Linked DNA regions of Homo sapiens. The protein of the gene in region 1 purifies or fractionates together with the protein of each later gene. This does not show direct contact. Each region holds a gene or a part of one and is shown on either strand. Other genes may lie near its edges. The genes, in order: TST, FAHD2A and LYPLAL1.

Region 1 (8,597 bases):
CACGCCCAGGCGGCCTGCGTACTCCGCGAAATGCTCGGCCCCGGGCAGCATGTGGTCGTAGGGCGAGGTGCGGTCGCTGCACTGGTCGATGTCGAAGAAAGCGGCGCCCGGGATGTGGCGCTCCTCGAACTCGCGTCGCGCGTCGCGCCCCAGCTTCGGCAGGTACCAGGAGGCGTCCAGCAGCTGCAGAGGCTGCCCAGCGCGCGGGGCCCGCAGCGCCTCCGCCACCCATTGCGCCGACACCAGCGCGCGGCAGAGCTGCGGCGAAGCCATGGCGGCGACACTCGGGCTGCGGGCCTGGGCGACAGGGAGGATGTCAGAAGGGAAGCAGGGAGAGGCCGCTGTTGGGGCTAGGGCTGGGGCTGGAGCATGGGCGAGGGCCGGCGGGGGAGGTGCGGCCCGTGCAGGGCAGAGTCCAGGGAACGCAGAAACCAGTGGTGGTGAACCCGGGCACAAAGGTGGGTAGCCAGGGGCCTCCCTCTGCCAGGCCTCATATAAACACAAGCTCCGAGTGACCCAATGACCATGACCTCCCGGAGAGCCCCAGGCCACGCCCCTCACCTCCACTTGCTGGGCAGGAGGGTGGGTGGAGGTATCCTAGGGCAAGGCCCTGCTGGCTTCAAGGCACAAACAGGGGCAAAGTCTCCACCCCTCCCTAAGATGCAGCTCGGCTTTATTTGCAACCAAGTCCCAGACGGAAGTCATTCATTCACTCATCAAGCATTTATATTGGCGACCTAATAGGAACAGTAGCTGGAATTTACTGAGTCCTTGCTGGGTACCACTGAATCCTAACAATATCCTAGAACAATGCCTGACACAGTAGACTCTCCAGTATGTGTTGAATGAGTGATCTTAAGAGGCCTGGTATATTATTGTCACCGTTTCAAGGAGGACACTCAGGCTCACAGAAGTGCACTAACCTGGCCTGGTGCGGTGGCTCACGCTTGTAATCCCAGCACTTTGGGAGGCCCAGGCAGGTGGATCACCTGAGGTCAGAAGTTTGAAACCAGTCTGGCCAACATGGTGAAACCCCGTCTCTACCAAAAATACAAAAAATTAGCCGGGCTTAGTGGAGGGCACCTGTAATCCCAGCTACTCGGGAGGCTGAGGCAGGAGAACTGCTTGAACCCAGGAGGCGGAGGTTGCAGTGAGCCGAGATCGTGCCATTGCAATCCAGCCTGGGGAACAAGAGCAAAACTCTGTCTCAAAAACAAAAAACAAACAAGAAAAAGTGCACTAGCCTGACCCGGCGGTGCCAGGCTTCTCACTAGGCAGTCAGTCTGGCACCAGAATCCGGACTTCTCAGACACACACTCTGTGCAGGCTCCAGGAGTCTGGCGAGGCCAGGTTTTGCCTGTCCAGCCTGGGCTCTCTCTGGCCCTTCTAGCAGCAGCAACAGTGACTTCGCACCTCCCTCCCTCTCCTCTCTATCTTTCCTGCATACCAGAGACAGTGCACCAGCTCGCCAGCCCACTATGCCAGGCCAGCCCACAGCCTTCCTGGGTGTAAACTTCCCAAACACTTTAAGCCCTTTGTGCTGGGAAGCCACCGTTGTGCAGGTGAGAGGAAAGGGCCCCTTCTGCCAGGCAGAGGCTGAGCCCCCACCAGGGCACATGGCTGGGTGTGTGGAGTATGGGCTGCAGATCAGCCCTCACTTATCCCCTGTGTGAGGCCCAACCTTGACACCCACTGCATGCAGTCCTGCCAGCGAAATGAAGGGGGCAGGTAGAGAACAACATCTGTGGACCGAGTGCCTCTGTGGGCCAGGTCACATGCTAGGCACCGCAGCCTTGGGCGGGTATTAGGACGCCTGCTTTATGAATGAGGCCACTGGCAATTAGAAGAATAAGTGCCTTGCCCGTGGTCACAGGAGGCAGCCTCAGGATTTGCAGCCAGAATTTGACCCCTCAGGCTGGACTTCCCCTGCCCCAGGTGCCATGATGACCAGGGCCTAATGAGTTCTAGGGTGACACCCTGTGCCCACCCCCACAGTCTGGCCGCAGCTGGCTTTTAGGAACCTACTTCACCCATGCGGTCAGGCCTTGTGCCGGACACCGAGGCACTCTTGCCTTTGCCAAGCCCTGGGGGGAAACGTCAGGCTGCAGGCAAGAGAGAGTGAAATTGAGGATAGTTTAGAATTCAGTGTTGAGCACAGAGGGCCCCTATGTTTGCCTGGGGTGGCAGCAGAAGAGGTGGGAAGGCTTCCTGGAGTAGGAGGAAGTCCAGACTAATCTGACTTTTCCAGGGGCCCAGGAAGCCTCAGCACGGTCTTTAGGGTAGGGAGGCTGCCAAGGGGTGTTTGGCTAAGGGGTGATCCCCATTATCTGCGTTACAGCACAGCTAGGGGGCGCTGTGCTGGCAGATGCTGCAGGTTCCTTCCTGAGGAACCCTATTGTGGGAACCACAGCAGCCCCTGTGCACCCCCAAACACTGTCCCCTATTCTTGAGGATCCTTGTTTCCCTCACCCAATCATCCATTTACAGTAGAAAGAGCCCTGGTTTAGGAGCCAGAGAGCCCCCCAAATCAATGTAAACCCCACTCCACTGCTTAACTGGTTGTGTGATGTGGGTGTGTAGGGTCTCTGGGTGGTTTCTGTTCCTTATAATGGAGCTTCTCACCTCCACCTCTTAGAGCCAAGATTAAACAATAAATGTAGAGGGGCAACCACCATGCATTACATCTGGCTGGTTTTAATAATCATTAAAAACGGTTTAGGTCGGGCGTGGTGGCTCACACCTGCAATCCCAGCACTTCGGGAGGCCAAGGCGGGCGGATAACGAGGTCAAGAGTTCAAGACCAGCCTGACTAACATGGTGAAACCTCATCTCTACTAAAAATACAAAAATTAGCTGGGCATGGTGGCATGAGCCTGTAGTCCCAGCTACCCGGGAGGCTGAGGCAGGAGAATCGCTTGAACCTGGGAGGCAGAGGTTACAGTGAGCCGAGATCGCGCCACTGCACTCCAGCCTGGGCAACAGAGTGAGACTCCATCTCAAAATAATAATAATAATAATAATATTGCATTATTTCTTCCATTACTCTCATTGGTGGCCCTGGAACTGCCAGCAGCAAATCTAAAATCTTAGAATTTCAGGGCTTGGTGGGACTTCAGAGATCTGAGGTCACCCTGCCCCAGTCTCCCTGCTTGATTGGCACTTCTCACAAAGGTCTGTGGGCCATAAAGGAGGGTGTGAAGGCAGGCTGTGGGTGTCAGGGAGGGGTAGAAACCAGGTGCCTGTGTGATTCAGAAGCCGGGATCACTGTAGGTGAGGGTGCCCTGGGAGTGGAGGACCCCAGGACGTAACCGCCCCAGGCTCATGTCAGAAGGATACACAGCTGCACTGAAGCAAGCGTGAGCCGCAGGCTGGATCCAGGGTACCCCTTGAGGAGCAGAGCTTGGGAGCTCCTCTTGGACCTCCCCAGCCTGGTCCCTCCTGCCCACCCCCTCCCCCAACCACCAGACACTAGGCTTTGAGGATTGCTGTGAGCATTTTAGAACAAAACCTTTTTTTAAAAAGAGGGATGAGGCCAGGGATGGTGGCTCATGCCTGTAATCTCAGCACTTTGGGAGGCTGAGATGGGCAGATCACTTGAGCCCAGGAGTTCAAGACCAGCCTGGACAACATGGTGAAACCCCATCTCTACCAAAAATTTAAAAATTAGCCGGGAATGGTGGCACATGCCTGTGGTCCCACCTACTTGGGAGGCTAAGGTGGGAGGATCGCTTGAGCCTGGGAGGCGGAGGTTGCAGTGAGCTGAGATGGCGCCACTGCACTCCAGTCTGGGCCACAGAACCACAGCCTGTCTCAAAAAACAAAACAAAACAAAAGGTCAGGGTTGGGAAACAGGGAAAGCTTCCAGGCTGGCCTCTGCAAAAGCTAGGGAGGGGCAATGGTGTCCCCCAGTTTGCAAGAGCCCATGGCGAGCTTTTCAGGAATTTTGCCAACTGGTTGTTAAATACAGCTATTATTAAAAATTGAATTACATCAACTTATGATTAAACGGGCTAAGTTCAAAACAGGCAATTTTTTAAAAAGCATGAACCTTCAGGGAAGAGCCAGGTAAACAAAGGCAGCTGGTACCACGTGGGCTTCAGACCAGGGATCAGGCCCGGCCTCAACTCTGGGTGTGTCCTCCAGCAACTCGCTCTGCCGCTCTCTCCTGTCTTAGTAAGTTTCTGGCCTACTCCTCAGGGTTATTGTGGGAATTAAGTCACACCACGGGAGTACCCAGCAAAGTGCCACACCAAGCAGGGCTGGACAATGTTAGTTCCTTTCACTCACTAACAAGTTATTGGCTAGTGTCTCTTCCTGGGGCCTCTGGGTCAGCGGGGTCTCGTCTCCCTGTCCTCCTCTCTCTCCCCCGCCCTCTCTGGTGCCACCAGGTCACCCACTTCCACCCAAGGCTCCCCACCCGCCACTCGCCACGACCCCACCCGGCAGGCCGCCCCAAGCGGACAGTCACCCTTAGTGCCAACGTAGCGGCGCGCCTTCTCTCCTAGACTAAGCCCCCTCTTCCGCCCAGGTCCCGCGCGGGAGCCCCGCGCCGAGCACCCCCAAAGAGCCACTCCCTCCCCCTCCAGAAAGGCAAGCCGCCACGCCGCGGCAGTTACCCGGGTCTCGGACTCCCGGCTTCCTGGCTCCGCCATGGCCCCCGCGGCGCGGCGCCCCCTCCCCGCGCCCGCAGCTGTCCCCTCCTCCCGCCACCAACCTGCAGCGGACCAAAGGGAGGAGACTCCGGCACAGCCCACCGCCGCGGCCACTCGGAGCCGCTGCTGCCCGCGCCTTCCACTGGCCGGGCCGTGGGGGTACGCCCGCTCCGCCCAGCCCAGGCCCGCGCGGCCCCCGCGCCACCCGGCGTCCCCCTCAGACCCCCGCGGGTCCCGGAGGCCCCGCGCGCGAGGTTGGCAGGTGCCGGGCGCGAAGCGGCCGCGCGGGGGAGGCGCGGGATGGCGGCGGGCGGCGCAGGGTCCCCCTCTGGCGGTGGCGCGATGGTGCGCGCCGCCTGGGGAGCTGCGGCCGGGGGTTTGAACCGGCCAACTTCTCCAGCCGGCCGGGGCGAGCGCCAGCGCGGCGTCCGGGGCGAGTGAGTGCGGGGCGGGGGCAGCGGCCGGGCGCCTGGGCCGCCGGTCGGGCCACCTGCTGCCCGGGGAAGGATAGCGTTGCGAGAGTGGGACGGGGTGCCCCGGGAACCCCTGATCCACCTAGGGCAGAGGGCAGCGAGCTACGGGCCGGACTCGGGCACTCTGGAGGCGGGCGAGCTCGGGCTGCCTGGGGAGGCCGCAGGCGATGGCGTGTGCGCGGCTCGCGGAGCTTCCTAGCCGTGCGCCCACCCCCTCTGCCTTGGAAGGAAAGGGGATTCTAAGCCCAAGATGCCATCGCCCCCCATCCCGGGCATGCTTTCATTGCTCTTTCCTGGCGGGATCGAGTACTGTAACTTCTAGGAGCCAGATCCCCGCCCCAGGAAGCGCCCCTACTTGGAGTCCTCGGAAACTCTTGCCCCACCCGCTTCTGCGCTGGGCCCCCGGGCCGGCTGGGAGGGGCGGGGCCGGCTTTCCAGAGGGAATCTGCAAACTTATCCCGCTGCACGCCCCAGCCTCGCTGGCTTGCTGTAAACAAGGAACCCGGGGGAGTGCGGAGGGAGAAAGAGCTTCTCCCAGGCCTCACCCTACTGCACACACCGACTTCCTTCCTCACGCCTGTCTCTCTTTCCTGGTTCCCACCCGTGCCAGGTGACACGCAGAGCTGAAGCCATGGTTCATCAGGTGCTCTACCGGGCGCTGGTCTCCACCAAGTGGCTGGCGGAGTCCATCAGGACTGGCAAGCTGGGGCCCGGCCTGCGGGTGCTGGACGCGTCCTGGTACTCACCAGGCACCCGAGAGGCCCGCAAGGAGTACCTCGAGCGCCACGTACCCGGCGCCTCTTTCTTTGACATAGAAGAGTGCCGGGACACGGCGTCGCCCTACGAGATGATGCTGCCCAGCGAGGCTGGCTTCGCCGAGTATGTGGGCCGCCTGGGCATCAGCAACCACACGCACGTGGTGGTGTATGATGGTGAACACCTGGGCAGCTTCTATGCTCCCCGGGTCTGGTGGATGTTCCGTGTGTTTGGCCACCGCACCGTATCAGTGCTCAATGGTGGCTTCCGGAACTGGCTGAAGGAGGGCCACCCGGTGACATCCGAGCCCTCACGCCCAGAACCGGCCGTCTTCAAAGCCACACTGGACCGCTCCCTGCTCAAGACCTACGAGCAGGTGCTGGAGAACCTTGAATCTAAGAGGTTCCAGCTGGTGGATTCAAGGTCTCAAGGGCGGTTCCTGGGCACCGAGCCGGAGCCGGATGCAGTAGGTAGGTGTCCCAGTGCTGGGTGGTCCCTGGGGAGTATTGCCCCATGGAAGGATAGGGAGTAAGGATGACTGGGACCCTCTCCAGGGTCCGTCCCATGCCTTCAATCCTCCCATGTAGGCCTCAGTCTTTCCATCGATAAAACCAGAAAGTGGAGACAAACCTAAAGGCTTTTTCAGCTTGGATGCACAAGGACCCAAGAATGTGTCCTCATAGCCATGTGCTAAGAAGCCACCTAGCATCTGTGTGAGCAGAAGTCACTGGTGACATGTCCACCACCTCCACTCCCAGGCACCAGCTGCCCCACATGTACTAGGATATACCTAAGGGTGTCATGCCCCTGAGCCAGCGTTTGCATTGCTGTACAGAAACCTCCCACGGACACATCCAGCTTCTCCAGGCCTCTCTCGTCCCGCAGAAACCCTTATAGACATCAACAGTGTCCCTCCCCGCAGGATCCCCCTCTCCCCAAATCTAGCTCTCCTGGGGCCCCTGCCTGCTGTTTGCAAAGGTTCCATAACCTTTCCAGGCAGCTGCAGCCCGTCGGCAGAGTTGTAACAGCAGCTGCCATTTCATGCCAGACACTTGGCACCGCATTATCTCAGCGAACAAAGCTCAATGCCCCTGTTTTGGCAGCGGGGGGTGGGGGGACTGAGATGCCAGGACATAAAGTGGTGGAAGGCAGGATTCGAATCCAATGCTGCCTTGTTTCAAACCAGGGCTATAAACCAGGACGCACCCAATGCTGCCCTACCCCTACTTCCCAGGGCCAGGAGGGAGTCCCCTCTGCTAGTTGCCCCAGGAAGGCGACTCAGAAGTTCCCCTCCTGTGGAAGGGAAGGCCAGGTGGATTGGATACTGCTTGAGGGTTGGGGAGAGCCTCAGGAGAGGAAATGCTGAGTTCTAGAACCTCCTAGCCAGACAGAACCTCGGAGGTCTTCCCTTTTCTAGAGGCAGGACTGCCGTCTCGCTGCCATCACTCCTGCTGAGTGCCCTCCAGTCCCTGCCTGGCCATTTCCAGGAGCAGGGCCCTCTCTTGTCTCTGGGCACCTCCTTGGTGGCTCTTTCCTCAGTCAGAGCTCCTTCTCTACAGAATCTAACTCGTGTGCAACATTTTGCCTGACTTGTTGAAAAACATCTCTTCCTGTCTGTACCTCCTACAGAGAGAATGCTGGGAAAACTGTTCTGCACACTCTTAGAGCTGGAGGGCCTGAACGGTGACCTCACCTGACAGAGGGGAGACTGAGGTGCACAGAGGCAGGGGCCAAGGCCGCATAGCTAGTTAGTGACAGAGCCAGGACAGCAGGGTCTCTGCCCTTTCCAGCGCAGCTTTTTCCAGGCCCCATATTTTTCTTGCCTGCTTGCTCTCTGAAGGTCTGGAGTTGAAGATTCAAGTTCATTTGGCACCTCCCAGAGAATCCTGGCTGGGAACGCCTGCAGCCCTCTCCTGGCCTTGGTTCAAGACGCCTCTTCTCCTTGGGATTTAAGCTGTCATGGGGGAGGATCAGTGGAATTGGTTCTCTTGCTGCTTCCCAGCCTGCCCTGAAGCAACCTAAGAAATAAGTGGAAGGGACAGCTTGGAGGTGCCAGGCCCAATGTCCTCACCCATTTTACAGATGAGGAAACTGAGGCTCAGAGGAGGAGAATGGCCTGCAGTGGGTAATGCCTCCTGAAGGCCCGGGATGCTGAAGTTCCTCCTCTGTAATTGTGTTCACACCTCCTTCAGTTTCCCTCAGGAGCATCAGGGAACATGGATTCTCATTTCAGCTCAGCCACTCCTCCTTGGAGTGACCTCAGTCCAGTTGCTTGGCCTCTCTGGGTTTCCTTATCATAAAATGAGAAGAGTCACGCCAGCCCTACCCACATGAGTATGCATTTGTTTAAATGTAGCAGTGGCGGCCGGGCGTGGTGGCTCACGCCTGTAATCCCAGCACCTTGGGAGACCAAGGTGGGCGGATCATGAGCTCGGGAGTTCGAGACCAGCCTGACCAACATGGTGAAACCCCGTCGCTACTAAAATGAAAAAAAAATTAGCCAGGCGTTGGTGGTACGTGCCTGTAATCCTAGCTACTTGGGAGGCTGAGGCAGGAGAATCGCTTGAACCCGGGAGGTGGAGGTTGCAGTGAGCCAAGATCGCGCCACTGCACTCCAGCCTGGGCAACAGAACAAGACTCTGTCTCAAAAAAAAAAAAAAAAAAAAAAAAAAGTAGCAGTGGCTGGAAAGGGATTTCAAGAAGGGTAAGGAACGAT
Region 2 (5,872 bases), on another chromosome or scaffold:
CTAACTGGGACCCCCCCAGGTGTCGGTGTATTCAGGAAACCTCCTGTCTTTCTCAAGGTAGGTTAGCGAAAAGCAAAGAGCAAGGGCCCCAAAGGCCTGGCAGGCTTGCCTCAGACTTGAGAAGTACAGGCTTGTGTATGTGTGTCTGACGGAAGGGCTGACACTGTCATGGCCTGCTCTGTTGCAGAAGGGGGATGAAGTCCAGTGTGAGATTGAAGAACTAGGTGTCATCATCAACAAGGTGGTGTGATGGCTCCTGCACAGGCCCTGCACATAGGATGAGGGCATCTGCTCCCACTCAGCCTAGCCCAGGGAAAGGCCCAGTGACAGGTGTGGACAGGTGCCAGCCCTGCAAGCCGCCTCTTCTCGGTAGAAGGGAGAAGGACAGAGCTCTCTTCAATAAATTCGTCAGGTCAAAGCAGCAGCTTTGCTTCTGCTGTTTGTCTTCTTTTGGGCTTTGTTTCATGGGACAAGTTGGGGCATTTTGTGGGACTGGGGAAGAAGAGAGCAAATACACACACATATGCCAAAAAGATGCTGCTGGGCTGGGGAAAAGACAATTCGTGTCGTCCCCTTGTTTATCACATCAAAGAAGGGAAAAAGCAAGAGATGGCAAGGGACAATCAAGCCTCAATGATTATATTTATAGCTAAGGGTTTGCAGCCTCCTCTCCATCTTCTGGCTCTAGGACACAGCTGTGTTCTGGGGCTCAGAAGTCTCAGCACAGGCTCCTTCTCACAGTTCTAGCTACAAGTGAACTGCCGGATGAACTGTTCTAGTTTTTCCTGATTGTCCAGGCTGGCAAAAGTAGGGGACAGGTGGAGCCTGGGGCCTGCAGGGCTCGGCGTCTGCTGCAGAACCTGGGCCATGGAAGATGGGCCGTGAGTGCACTCACCACAGGGACTGTGTCCACATGGCCCAGGGGCCAGGCCTGTCCCCCAGAAACCTGCCTTGAGACCTCTGACCCCTTAGGCCTCAGTGTTTGAGTGCAAATGCTGCCTCAAAGCAGCCCCAATACCCCACCTAGAAGGATGAGCCAGTGATTTGGGAGACCAAGAGGCAGGAAACCATCCCACCTTCTCCAACCCATCACCACGTCTATTGCTGGAAGACACCAAGTAAATCCCAGGGTCTTAATGAGGCACCATCAGGCCAGCCCTGTGGGGTGATGGGAACATAGCTGGGTTTCCCTGAGCCACTCTATTGGGGTGGGAGCAGGGGGACAGAAGATGGTGACACTGGCTCCTCTCACCCCTAGGTCTCTGAAGGTCCAGATAGCACTGATGGCAAGCTTTGGGTCTGCACACTCTGGAAAGAAGAGAGAAGTGAAGGCTCTAGGTAGGGAGGACAGGGAGACACTGGGCACAGGCTTCTCTCCTCTTGTTTAAAGAAGCCCAGGGAGGGATAGATCTCCGACTGGACAGAAGACTACTCTGCAGCCCGCCTTCCTAGAGTTGGGTTGTCACTGTCCGGCAGGGGGCAGCAGCCACCAGCAAACACCACTGCCTGCAGGAGCCTGGGCTGACTGGTTGGGACTCACCAAAGATCCCTTCTTCCTGGGCGGTGGCCTGCAGGAACTGGAACAGCTGTTGGAGAGGAGAAGAAAAAGAAGACATCAAAAAGAAAATCTAGTGCTGGGTGGATATAGAGTATGAAGATGTGGAGCTGGGAAAACAGAGGATGTGGTGGGATGGGGAAGGAAAGGTTGTGGAAGGCCTGCACCCCGTCTCAGTTCCTCCACTGCTTCGTCCCAGATTCTGTTTTTGTTTTCCTGAATCAGACTTAGTCTCCCTCCATTCTCCCGTCCCCTGTGTGCCCCCATCCTGGTCCTGCCTCACTGGACAGCCTCTCCGCGGCCTTCCTCCTCCCTGCTCCAGAATTCTACTTGGTGCCCCCCAACCCCACTCGACTCATTGTCCACCTGGCCTCTGAGGCCAGGCACCCTCATTCCCCTCTCCCACCCACCCCACCCAAGGAAGCCCAGCACAGACCATCTCATCTCACTCCACCATCACTTCTTTGCCAAATGCATTTCCAAACACCCTCATGAGCTTTGCTGATCTCTTTGCCATCTCTCCCTGCCCCACTCCGATGGCTCCTCCTGCCTGGTGAAGACTGCCCTGGGTATCCCAGAACTGAACCTGCAGCAGCCAGCACAGCTGACCTTGGGGCGATAAGCAGCCAGGGAAAGGCTTTCTTAAAAAAAAACAAAAAACAAAACCAATAACTCAGTAAGCAGATTAAACAAAGGTAGAGACGGAGCCCTCCACCCCTCTCACACACTCATCCTCACACCCAGCTATACCACACCCCACAAATGTTGCTTATGTTTCCTTGGTCATTCTGTCCATCCTCCTGTCTGTCCAAAGCCAAGGACACTGCTCTACTCTAAATTTTTTGTCCCGAAGCCCCCAAATACTGCAACCCTGACCCAATGCACGAAGCCACCCCAAAATACAGCAGAGGACACCAGGACTTTCATTTTCCCTCAGTATGGCCCATCCTTTGGGTATGCCAACTCCATGTCCACCAAGCACTGCATGTAGGACAGGGCACAGTTTGGAGGCCTTGGTCCAGCCACTGCCCCAGACCCACCTTGGCTCTCTCCTCACTAACACCCGAGAAGCCCAGACTTCCCAGTGTTTAGCAACAGATTAAACTCTAAGCCAACAACAACAGAACAGGGTGGAGTGAGTGGAAAGCAAATGAAATGTTAAAAAAAAAAAAAAAGCAATACTTGCATTCTCATTAGTAGGAACATGTGAGATGAAGCATGTTATGTTATTAGGCATTCTCTTGATTCGGTAAACACAAGCTGAATAAATTTATAAATATCAGCATTAAGCGAGATTTAACGGGGAGCTGTTTATCTTCTGCCTGTCAGGCAGGCGGCAACACTCTCCATGTATCACTCGCCAGCCGTGCAGTCCTCACTCTCTTGCCCAGGTAAGCTGGGGAAGAGCCTGCTGCCGCCCAGCTCTGGTTGTGGAAGGGCTGGCACCAAGGAGCTGCGAGCTTACCTCAACTCATCTCACCTCACCATGCCGGCTGCGAGGCGGCCCGTGCAGTCCGTGCGCAGGAGGTCACACTCCCATGCTGCATCCCAGCCCCTCCAGAAGCAGAGCATGACCTGGGTGACTTTGAGGATGCTATTTAACCTCTCTAAGCTAAAGCTCCTCGACTGCAGCATCAACAGATCAGTGCCGACCTGTTAAGGCCGTCGAGAGCATCAAATGCTACTGTTCAGCAGGTGCCTGACACATAGTAGGTCCACAAGCAAATGATTTTCCTGCTTGCATCATTTCTAGCACAGAGCTGGAGGAAATGGCGAGGTGCAGGTGGCCGCTGGGCCCTGCTGTTCTACATGGGAGCAAGACAGCTGCTAGGTGAAGGGGAATGACCAGGCAGCCACAGGGAGGACATGTGGCCTCAGGAAGCCTGGGTGTGTATCCTGGTTCTGCTAGGAACACGTGTGGGGCTTTGTGTGGGTGACTCTCTGGCTCCCCAAGCCTCCCTTTCCTACTGTTATATCCTTAAAGTGCCTCTGAGGCCAAAGCCTTTGTGGCAATTGTCAAATGAGTCCATATGCAGTGAGTACCGTGTTGAGGGAGGACAAGGTCACCAAGAGCTGAGAATGTTTCTCCGACTGATGAGACCTAGATATTGGGTACATGGAGGTCCCCGGTCCCTTTGTGATTCCTGCAGCCTGTTGCCTCCTTGCCTGGACCCCGCCTCAGCTCAGAAAGCCAATTCCCTAGATTCCAAAGGCCTTCCCAGACCAATTAGCATGTCCTGCAGCTGTCAGCTCCCTGTGCCTAGCCTGGACCTCAGCTCATGTCTAGCACCCAGTCTCCCAACCCCACACATATTCACAAATAAAAGAAAATAACAAATGACATGAATTCTTCACTCCTGGTCTGGCTTGCTGTGTGTAAACTGCTATGACAATACAAGACGCAGAGGCGGGTACCCAATAAAAGCTGTTGAAAATGTGACTGACACCGAGTTTCAGCTATCCAGGAAGGCACGGATCCTTACAAGGTCCAAGCAGAGTCCTCGAGAATAGTTGAGAATTCTTGGGTTCCATATGAACTAGGAGATACCCACACAAAGGCTTGGATTTCCCAATACATAACTACCCCTGAACACTCCTTCTTTCCCTCGTCTCTCTGCTGAGACCTCTAGACCCTAAGGATCCACCCAGGACAACCTCTCCAAAGGTACCCTGATATGCTTTTCTTCCAGGCAGCATTTCCACAGAGCTGTGGGTGAAAGTCACAGGATGAAAATGTGCCATGGGACTGTATCTCCCACCAACACACTGCAGGCAAGGGGCACACAGAGTGCCCCCTCTGCCCATCCCAGGAATGGCCATCTAAGAATGATGCAATCTTTTCTAAAAAGAAAGTAAATAAAGGCAGGTGCCATATAAGAAGACCTTGGGGGACTATAGGGATGTTCCTTAATGTCTCAGAACATCTGCCTCCATCAATGAAATGAAGGATTCAAAGCAGCTCATCCCTGAGTTGACCTTAATGCTGAATCCTAAACATCACCCTTAGGATGCTATCTGGCTAGGCAGGGAATGAAGGATCTGGGAGCTGAGTTGCAGGAAGCTGCAGCAGCTTCCCATTTACAGATCCTCTAGTGCCAGTTTTTCAGGCTTCCTGACTAAGAGAAGCAGCCAGGCAAATTCCACCATTCAGCTACATTTACAGGAAGCTGGCTATTTGGGAGGCTCTCTACCAGAGGCTTTGGGAAAAAAAATGCAGAATTAATGTAAAGATCACATATTTACCTATGAGAGAAAAGATATCCAAGGATGCCCTTCGGCCTCATTTGATCTAAAACTAGGCCTGGAGCTACCTAATTGTCAAGTCAGTTCAGGCTTCTATAACAAAAATACTATAGACTGGGTGGCTTAAACAACAAACGTCTATTTCACATGCTGCTGAAGGGAACAACCATGGTCAGGAGCATGATGAGGGCCCTCTTCCTGGCTTGGAGGTGGCCATCTTCTTGCTGTGTCATCACATGGCAGAGAGAGAGACAGAGAAAGAATGAGAATGAGAGGAAGCAAGCAGTTTCATATTTTATCTTATAAGGGCACTAATCCCATCATGAGGGCTCCATCCCCATGACCCAATAGCCTCCCAAAGGCCCCATCTCCAAATACCACCCCACTGGTAGTTAGGGTTTCAACATACATTTGGGAGTATACAAATATGCAGTCCACAAAACAAATACCCCTAAGTTGTCTGCATATGTATGCTTGTTCTGGTGCTGCTTTGAGTATCTCAGACGATAGAATCGAGTGTAGATCAAACTTCTCTAGGCCTCAATAGGGTGAATCTAAAGATTGGGTCACAATAATGGCAATAAGCCACAATTCACTGGATTAATCTCACCTACTCCTTCAGGGGCCTATCCACATTCAAAGTACCACAAGTACCTGTAGAAGTCTCTGAGCAGTATCACAAAGACTGACATAGATACAGGCAAAATAGAAAATGGATAGATGGTAGTATGGGGTTGGGGGTGGTTGTGTGTGTGTGTGTGTGTGTAAGGAAAGAGGATGTCTTGTACTTGGGATACATGGGGATATATTGTTTTTGAGGCTGTTTGGTGGCAATACTTGCCCTGAGCTCAGGAAACAGGCCAGAGAGATATATCTGTTCCCTACTTAGAAGAGAGCACTGATGCATGAAGGTTGGGAGGAGGCCAGAGAATAGTGTATTGAAAGAAGAGAATGTGACCAAGGCCCCAACATTAAAAATGAACCTTGAATTGGAGATGGGGAATGAAGAAAAAGTCAGAGAAGAGGGCATACGTGGAGTAATCTGAAAGACAGGAAGAGCCACAGGTGTGCACA
Region 3 (8,615 bases), on another chromosome or scaffold:
TGAAAGAGAGCAAAAGTAGATGTACAGAGATCAGTTAGGAAACTACTGTTCATGCTTAGACTACAGCGATGATGTAGATAGAAACAGATACTAGAGAAATTTAGGTGGTAAAATTAATAGAGATTGGCAACGGATTTGTTATAAAGGGTCAACAGTAAAAGGTCTCATGGATGACTAACAGGCTTTTGGCCGGAGTAACTGGGTGAACAATACTAGACACCTGCCTAGACAGGAAACATAAGCAACAGGCATACACAGGTTGAGTGTGAGGTGCCTCTTTGTAATGCATACAAGGTCTTATACCATGGGTTGATTGAGCAACTATGGACAGCTAGAGGGGAGGACAAAATCCAGCCTAGGGTCCTTAAGGAGGATAAGCTAAGAATGAGTTTTACATTATTAAAGACTCCTTTCTCAAAAAGAGAGAGAAGGGAAAACTATGGGGAAGAGACCTTACATGGCCCACAAAAGCTAAAATGCTTACCTGACTTTTTGCAGAAAGTTTGCCAACCCCTGCCCTACACTACCTGGATGCCAGTACCCTCTTGGATATCCCTTCCTATTCTTCTCACTCCAGACACACTAGCCTTACTGCTGTTCCTTGAACATGTCAAGGACCCTACCCTGGAGCCTCCGACTTGGCTTTAAAGCCAAGTCTAAGTCTAGCTGTGAAGTTTCATCTTCTGTCATCTTTGCAGTGAGGCATAACCTGACTACTTTATTTAAAATTGTAACACTGTTCCAACTTCTCATCCATGGAAGAATCCCCTTATCCTGCTTTCCTTGTTTCCATAAAACTTACTACCTTCTACTATAGTATTTATTTACTTCATTAGAACATAAGCTCCATGAGAGCAGTGATTTGTTTTTTTCATTGCTGTATGATCAGAGCACAGAACAGTGCCTTACACATGGAGGCTGTGATATATTTCTTGAATGAATGGATTCATGAATGAATGTCTATCAGGCAGTTAGATGAACTTGTCTAGAGCTCAAAAATAGAATCTATGAATCTCCACAGAAATTCAAAGGTTCTATTTTTACCTATACACCAGTGACACAAATGGGTATCTCTAGGAGACTTCTGTGATTAGCCTAGGGAGAAAAATGTAGAGTGAAAAGACCTTGGACCAAATTTAGAGAAACCCCATCATTAATGGCCAGGTAGAGGAGGATGAGTCTGCAAAAGAAACCAGAAGGAGCAAATCAAGACAGAAAAAGAACCAGGAGAGTTTTTTGAGAAGAAAGCTGAATGCAGATGACAGTTCACGTAAGAGGACGACTGAAAATGTCCATTACATTGAGCGACATAGAGCCTGAGCTTACTGGTGACTTTACCAAGAAGCTACTCAGTCAACTTGCTGAGCCTTACCACACAAGAAGAAAGCCATAAACAAGACACATGGTTTGGGCTTTGTGGACCTACTAGCTTAGTGTGGAATACAGACATTACATTACATAATTACAAGTATGATGACTACCACTGAAAGAAGAACCAGTGTCCTATGGGAGCAAATAAGAGTGAATTAATCTGATCTGAGAGACTGAACAAAACTCATTAACCTATCATTTATTTTTATCATCTTAAAAGAAGGTCCGTCTTTAGTACTTTATTAATAGAAAAGGCTCAAATTAAGTTGGCTACATATAATTTACACTCCCATATGTTCTTCTATGGCTGCTATCTCCTAGAAGAAAATCTCAAGCTTTTAAGGTTTTTTATTTGAAAACACAAAATCTGTCTTTAACAACATTTTTTCAGCCTCGAAGAGTAAGAATGCAGCTGCAAAACAACATCTATCCATTCCCAATGTCCACTTTTTAAAAAGCTAGTACTTTATTCCATAGTAAAAGTGTTAAAACTGGTTAACAGTATGGCAAAACTGAGTGTGATAAAACAGAATTGGTTTGCCCATATTCTAGTTAAGCAGAAACCAAACATCTCCTATAACATAACCACATACATTAAAGTTGAATGTAAAATCACTAGCTGCTAAAGACCTACTGGATGATAAAGACCTACTCCCAACGATAAAGATGATAAAGACCTACTCCCAATAAGGTTTTATTTACTTCAGTGGAGATTTAAATATATAGGAATCACATTATACTCGCATACTTGGCAGAATTCTTTGAATAAATTCTTGGTTCAAAGTACAAAGGAAAAAATACATACATACATGACTCTGAATTTTAGAGACATACCCTTACAGGTTATAAAAATGTAATCTGAAATTCAAAAAAAGGATAATTATTTTAAGCAAAGAGGTCCAGGGGAAAAAAGAACATAGTCTAGGAGTTCTTCCTAAAGATAATGAGAATTGATTATGAGAAAGGGTACAGTGTTGGGGAATTTCTGGGTACTTATAAATGAACACTCTTGGAGCCCTAAATAGTACTACCAGTCTCCTAGTTATTAAGTACCGCTGTCATCTTACACACGTCACCTTCTAAATATATGCCGTCTTTCCCTTTAAACACTATTGGACCTCTTCTTCCCTATCTCCAAAACAATATATCCTAGTTCAAACTTTTTCACCTTACCCCACCAAAGCCCTGAGTTTGAGGTCGGAGAGCTTTGGGTTCTAATCCCAAATCCGCCACTACTCACAGTAACAGCTAAGAGACCTTGGCCAAGCTGCTGAACCTGTCTGGCCTCATTTTCAAAATAAAGAGAATACCTCCCACAATTGCCCTTTTCCAGGTCTCTGCCCAGTACCTTTCCAATTCCCTTCCAATCACCGTCCCATTTAAGCCTACCCGTCTCGGCTCAAAGACCACTTTCTTCGAAAAGTCTGACAAGCTTTTCATCTTCCAAATGCCTTAATAATGCCTAACCACATTTTTTTCTCTTACAATTCACTTGGCAGGAAACCATGCACCGTCTTGTGATCTTCCATGCACTGCTGACTCAAACTAATTGGATTGTTTTTGTTTTTAACTTTAGGTAGGCCCCCTGAGGACACCGGCTGCATCTCATTTCTTTAAAAAACATTTCCTGAGAGCTTACCCTGGGCCAAGCACTGGGGGTGCAAAGGTTGACACAAGGGCCCTTACTCTCATAATCCAGTGGGAAGTTCACAATCCAGTGGGGAAGACAGACAAAAGTGATTACAGATGAGTGTTAAGTAACGATACAGCATTAAGCACACGTTACTAAGGGCAGGTAGTGGAAGATGCCTGTCCCTGGGGGTCCTGCCCCTGTAGTCTATCTTGGAAGTTTAATGACACAGGCGGGAAAGGGAAAGGAAGGAAAGAGAAGCAGCAAAAAGGAAAGTGAGAGAAAGCACTCCAGCCATGGCACAGTGGCTTACAGAAAAGAGATAATCTGTAAACAGTATCTAAGTTAACTGTGAATCTCAATTGTCTACATTAGTATGGGAGCCTGGAAAAAGCAATGGGCAATTACGACTGAAAAATCACTAGTAGCTGATAATGAAAAACACTAAATAATTTCCCTCTAGCAGAAGACTTACCTTACTAACTTGCTCTGTTTAAACTTGGGGCGAGGAATGGGGAGGTGTGTTGTGGGGATGGAGGGCTGGCTGAGCGGCGGGACACAAGGCCCCAAAGCGAGGGTGGTGGACCAGTGACCGCCCGATAGAAAGAGGAAGACTAACGGGGGAGGCTGGGGGCAGGTGGCGCTGCCCGTGCATCTACAGCCGGGGCTGGCGACGGGGGAGCCACCCACTGGGCCCTATTTGGGCCCGGCGACACCTCCACTTGGGCAATACTGGGGTAACCGAGGGGAGGATGTTTCCCGAGCTGTAGAAAACCAGGACGTAAAATTGAAATCCACCTGAGCCATGCAGGAAGATCAGAGAGGCGCTATGCCTCCCTGCCGGCGACACGATACAGCGCTGCAGAACCGACCCCGACGCAGCCGCCATCGCTGATGCCACTGCCAGTCATGCGGTTCCGCCCCTGCGTTGCCGCGCGGGGCCGCGCACGCAAATACGCAGGCACGCGCGGGAGCACGCCCGGGAGCGCGCATGCGCAGCGCTGCTGGCCCGCTCTCTGAGGAGCTTTCAATACTTTGGGGTCAAGTTTGAGGCAGTTGTAACTGTACTGAGTTTAGTTTTGCTAATAATGGTATTCTACGTGTGTCAGCCTCGTGTGGACTTCTGTAATGACTAATGGATATGTTTATATCCTGAGCATTTGCTGTAGGAATTTTAAATGCAATCCCAAAACTCAAGATTACCTTATTTGGAGAAATATTCGTGTTACTATGTTTAAAATTTAATAGAACCATATTTTACCTTTCACTTTGGGACTCGCACAGGATGTTTGCAGCTCTTGATATACAGGGTAAGCGAAGCATATAATAATAAGTTCTCTTCGTGTCTCTTATTTTTAATAAATAGTTTACAAAGCAAATCTAATTTAATGAGATTCTGCTTTATATACCCATTAGAATGGCTCTTATCAAAAAAACAGAAAATAAGTATTAGTAAAGATGTGTAGAAATTAGAAACCTTGTGCATAGCTGATCAGAATGTAAAATGATGTTGCGGCAATAGAAATAATTTGGTGGCTCCTCAACAAGTTAAACATTGACTTAGCATAGGTACTAGCAGTTCCACTTCTAGGTATATACCCAAAAGAGATGAAAGCAGGGACTCAAACAAATACTTGTACTTCAGTGTTCTGTAGCAGCATTATTCACAAGTACCAAAAAGTGGAAACAACTCAAATGTTCATCTACAGATGGAGAGATAAACCAAATGTGCTATGTACATATTGGAATGGAATATTATTCAGCCTGTAAAAAGAATGTGATTCGGATACATGCTACAACATGGATGAACCTTGAAAACATTATGCCGAGTGAAGCCAGACACAAAAGGACAAATAATTGTATGATTCCACTTACATGAGATATCTAGAATTGGCAAATGCATAGGGACAGAAAGTGAAATTAGAGGTTACCAGGGACTAAGGGAAGAGGGAGTTGGGAGGTTGTTGTTTAATGAGTACAAGAGTTTCTGCTTAGATAGTGAAACATTTTTAAAAATGGACAGTGATGATGGTTGTACAACAGTGTTAATAACTGCCAGTGAACTATACACCTAGTAAATTTTATGTGTATTTTACCATAATTTTAAAAATACTAAGAAATGGAATTATTTCCTGTATAAAGTCCAAAACATAGGTATCTTTTAATACTGAAGGCAGTGGCCCCAGCAGGTTGCTCTTGCCTCATGTAAAATTCAACAAAATAACCCAGTAAAAGCTTAAGTACCATTAAACACTGGCCTTCCATTCATTGTAGTCTGCATTACATTTTAGCAATTACAACTTACCTTTTATTTGTTCCAGGTAATCACCCTACTTACAGGTAAGTAAACTGTTTACTATCAACATTAGTTGCCAAAATCAGCTCTAAGCTATCATGGTGTTATATTAATAACAATACCATCAACAAGAATGGTCCTACATGCCATTAGTTAACCAAATCAAAAAGAAATTCTGAGTCATTTCTCCAAAGCCCATAGATCTGCAGCAGAGAGTTGTATAAGTGAAGTCCCTGAGGAGGACAAACTAGGGTAGGCTGAGCTCTGATAGCCAATTCTTAAAAGAAAAACCTCTGTCTTTTGACCTGCCTTCCCCGTATGAGTTCTAGATAACCTTCCCTAGCCAGGTGAGAAGAGGGCAGTGCTACTAGGAAAGACCACTTGGAGATATACAGGGAAGGCTTTAAGTTCTACTCTTAGAACTCCATTTACTACCTGAAAATCTTACTGTACACCACCCCACGCTTTTGAGACAGCAAAAAATCAGAATATAATTATTTAAGAGTAATGATTATTAATAATAATAAGCAACTAATATTCATGGGATTCAGTAGGTGCCAAAAACTGTCATAAATTAATTCCAATAAAACTCAGTACTATTACTATCTGCTTTTGTCAATGAGGCTCAAAGAGGTAAGGAACCTGGCTCAAAGTCATAGTGCCAGTCAATTGTAGAACCTGGATTCACATGCTGGGCTTGACTCCAGAGCATAGGTTCTTAACTATTACCCACATTTACACATGAGTGCACAGAAATGAAGCAAGGGCATGTCGCAACTCTTATTTCAAAAACAAAAGTCTGGAATTTGTATTGTGGCCCTTTAGAGTCTCTATTTATTAGGTGTTCCTGTGCTTCTTTAGTTTTTCCCAAGTCTACTGCTATTAGTTCCTGATTTGTTCTTCCAACTATTCTACCAGTTTAAACAGGTAGATAAGCAGGTGGTAAATACCAGAAGCAACCTTCTGTATTCTGAATTTCACTGAGAACTCCAGCCTTCCCAGATTCATTATTAGAATGAGCCAGATTCTTCCACACTTAACCAAAGTGCTATTTTATTTCCAGTGATTTAAATGCTTAGCTATTGTTGCTATTCCTTTCATCTGTATTTGTTTATAGGACAAGCAAAGGTTTTAGATTACCTATATTTAGAGATCCCATCTGGTAGGCAAACTGTTGAACAAAAATGTTTTGTTCCTTTCATGTTACTGTACTACTTTGAAATGTAATTAAGTTTCAAGATGACTATTTGCTTTTGTGGTGGATCTTTTGCCCTATTGAAGGTGGGGGAATATTATCACTGGAAGATTCCTATTCATACATTCTTTTACTCTTTATATAGCTCCTAATTATTTTTTGTTGCTACTCATTTGCTTTCTGCCAATCTATATGCACCTCCTTTTGGTAACTTCAGTTCTAAACTTAAAAAAGCAAGTAAACAAAATAAAAGAAAAAGAAAAAGTTCTCCTGTTTTGCAGGGTTTCAATATCAATTAGGATCTAACGATATAAATGGCAAAGTCGGAGTTTAGTTTACTGTTCTTCAGTGTGTTGAGAAATGCTTTAGGCCACACTTAGTTTTCAAAACAGAAAAGCAATTGAAAGTTCAGCCATTAAGATTAGTATATTTTGCCTGGGTGCAGTGGCTTACTGTAATCCCAGCACTTTGGGAGGCCAAGGCAGGCGGTTCACTTCAGGCCAGGAGTTTAAGACCAGCCTGGCCAACATGGCGAAACCCCATCTGTACTAAAAATACAAAAAAACTTAGCCGAGCATCATGGCGCATGCCTGTAATCCCAGCTACTCCGGTGGCTGAGACACAATAATTGATTGAACCCCGAGGCAGAGGTTGCAGTGAGCCAAGATCTCACCACTGAACTCCAGCCTGGGTGACAGAGCAAGACTCTGTCTCAAAAAAGAAACAAAAACAATGAACAAGATTAGTATACTTGGTATTTTCAAATGATAACAGTTAAATGAAGTTGCATTTGTCACGCAGACAGTACACAGTTTCCCGTTTGTTGTTTGGCTCATTCTTAAGCATCAAACCATATCCTCTCTATTGGTTAGTTTTCATCTGTTGCATCATTCAGAGAGAGAGAAACACACACACACACACACACACACACACACACACACATATATATATAAACAATATATACACATTGCACAAAATGCTTCAGCTTCAGCTTTAGGTAATTTAACATTTTGTCATAGATAAATAAAATGATTTCTTTTATGCATTCCCCCTGTCCATTCATGAAAGAAAAACTAGAAACAAACTTAAAGGTCCTGAATTCTTACAAAACAGCAAAACTATACTTTTTATAAATGAGATTATAAACTTTAACATAATCATTGCCTCAGTTCTGGGGACCTTAATCTTTTTCAGTCCAGTCTTTCCAGATACAGATATGGGTCATTCCTCTACTTTACCTTACTACTAGATGTGCATGGTCTCATTCTCTTTTTAGAGCAGATGGGTCACGTGGGGCATTGTGAGATGGACTGAGATGGCATTGGCAGTAGGGGTAGGGGAATACATGAGCTCCTCAAACACAGACCAAACGCAGCCTTGGAGAATGGATAGTGATTACTCTGCTGGATTATTAACAGTCAACATGATACACACCAAAGCAGTATGTAGGCCCTAGAGGAGGACAGTGAACTTTCCTCCCTTGGGTGCAGGCTACAGGGTCAGTGTTTATGCTTGGACACCAGAACAATGTTCTTTGCATTGCCATTTGTCTCCTCTTTTCTGGGAAATGGGTCTTCTTCCATTTGGACACCTCTTATGGCCAGTTCTCAAATTCCTAAGTTACCCTCTGGAAACACTTCTTATTCAACTTCCACTCAGTGCTTATATGAGTCTGAGGAATCCCTCCTGCAATCTTCATATTTGTCTCTGTACTCTAGAACCTATTACTTTTTTCTTCTATAACAAATTTTCAGGCTTTTGAAATCCAGGGCAAGAATCAACAGCAACCCCTAATCAGGTTTTGGGCCCTTGAGGGCAGGGAAGTTCAAATCCTACCATGAGATGAGGGGAAGTCATTGCATTGCATACGTCTATTACAAAGAAAAGAAATAAAAGCCAAAAGAGTAATTTCCTTATGAATGCAGTCAGAATATCTACTGTATTTTGCTACATTCATTTAAGAGAAGATTAGATAGGTAGATATAAAAAATGTTGAAGTAATGAAATGATAGGAGTTCCTGTTCCAGCCTCGGGGATGACAAGCTATGTAAATTAGACAGGCCATTTAGTCTCATTGGACACGTTTCTCCAATTGTGAAATAAGGGAGCAGGACTTGATGGAG

Evidence for each region.
Region 2: the proteins of TST (region 1) and FAHD2A fractionate together in Homo sapiens (co-fractionation; 2 studies listed by BioGRID). This does not show direct contact.
Region 3: the proteins of TST (region 1) and LYPLAL1 fractionate together in Homo sapiens (co-fractionation; 2 studies listed by BioGRID). This does not show direct contact.

Annotation. Positions count from the first base shown.
Region 1 is NC_000022.11:37,015,892-37,024,488, reverse strand, and holds the start of TST (thiosulfate sulfurtransferase), read left to right. Parts: upstream 1-5,041; 5' UTR 5,042-5,089; intron 5,090-5,735; 5' UTR 5,736-5,756; coding exon 5,757-6,351; intron 6,352-8,597. Other genes in the region: MPST (3-mercaptopyruvate sulfurtransferase), read right to left, coding at 1-297, 4,617-4,652.
Region 2 is NC_000002.12:95,412,708-95,418,579, forward strand, and holds the end of FAHD2A (oxaloacetate tautomerase FAHD2A, mitochondrial), read left to right. Parts: coding exon 1-57; intron 58-187; coding exon 188-250; 3' UTR 251-1,258; coding exon of another isoform or gene 1,259-1,338; 3' UTR 1,339-1,476; coding exon of another isoform or gene 1,477-1,525; 3' UTR 1,526-1,574; coding exon of another isoform or gene 1,575-1,632; 3' UTR 1,633-3,909; downstream 3,910-5,872. UniProt on the Homo sapiens protein: Tautomerase that converts enol-oxaloacetate, a strong inhibitor of succinate dehydrogenase, to the physiological keto form of oxaloacetate. It is thereby required to maximize aerobic respiration efficiency by preventing succinate dehydrogenase inhibition.
Region 3 is NC_000001.11:219,169,166-219,177,780, reverse strand, and holds the start of LYPLAL1 (lysophospholipase-like protein 1), read right to left. Parts: upstream 3,904-8,615; 5' UTR 3,891-3,903; coding exon 3,800-3,890; exon of another isoform or gene 3,477-3,799; intron 2,821-3,476; exon of another isoform or gene 2,761-2,820; intron 1-2,760.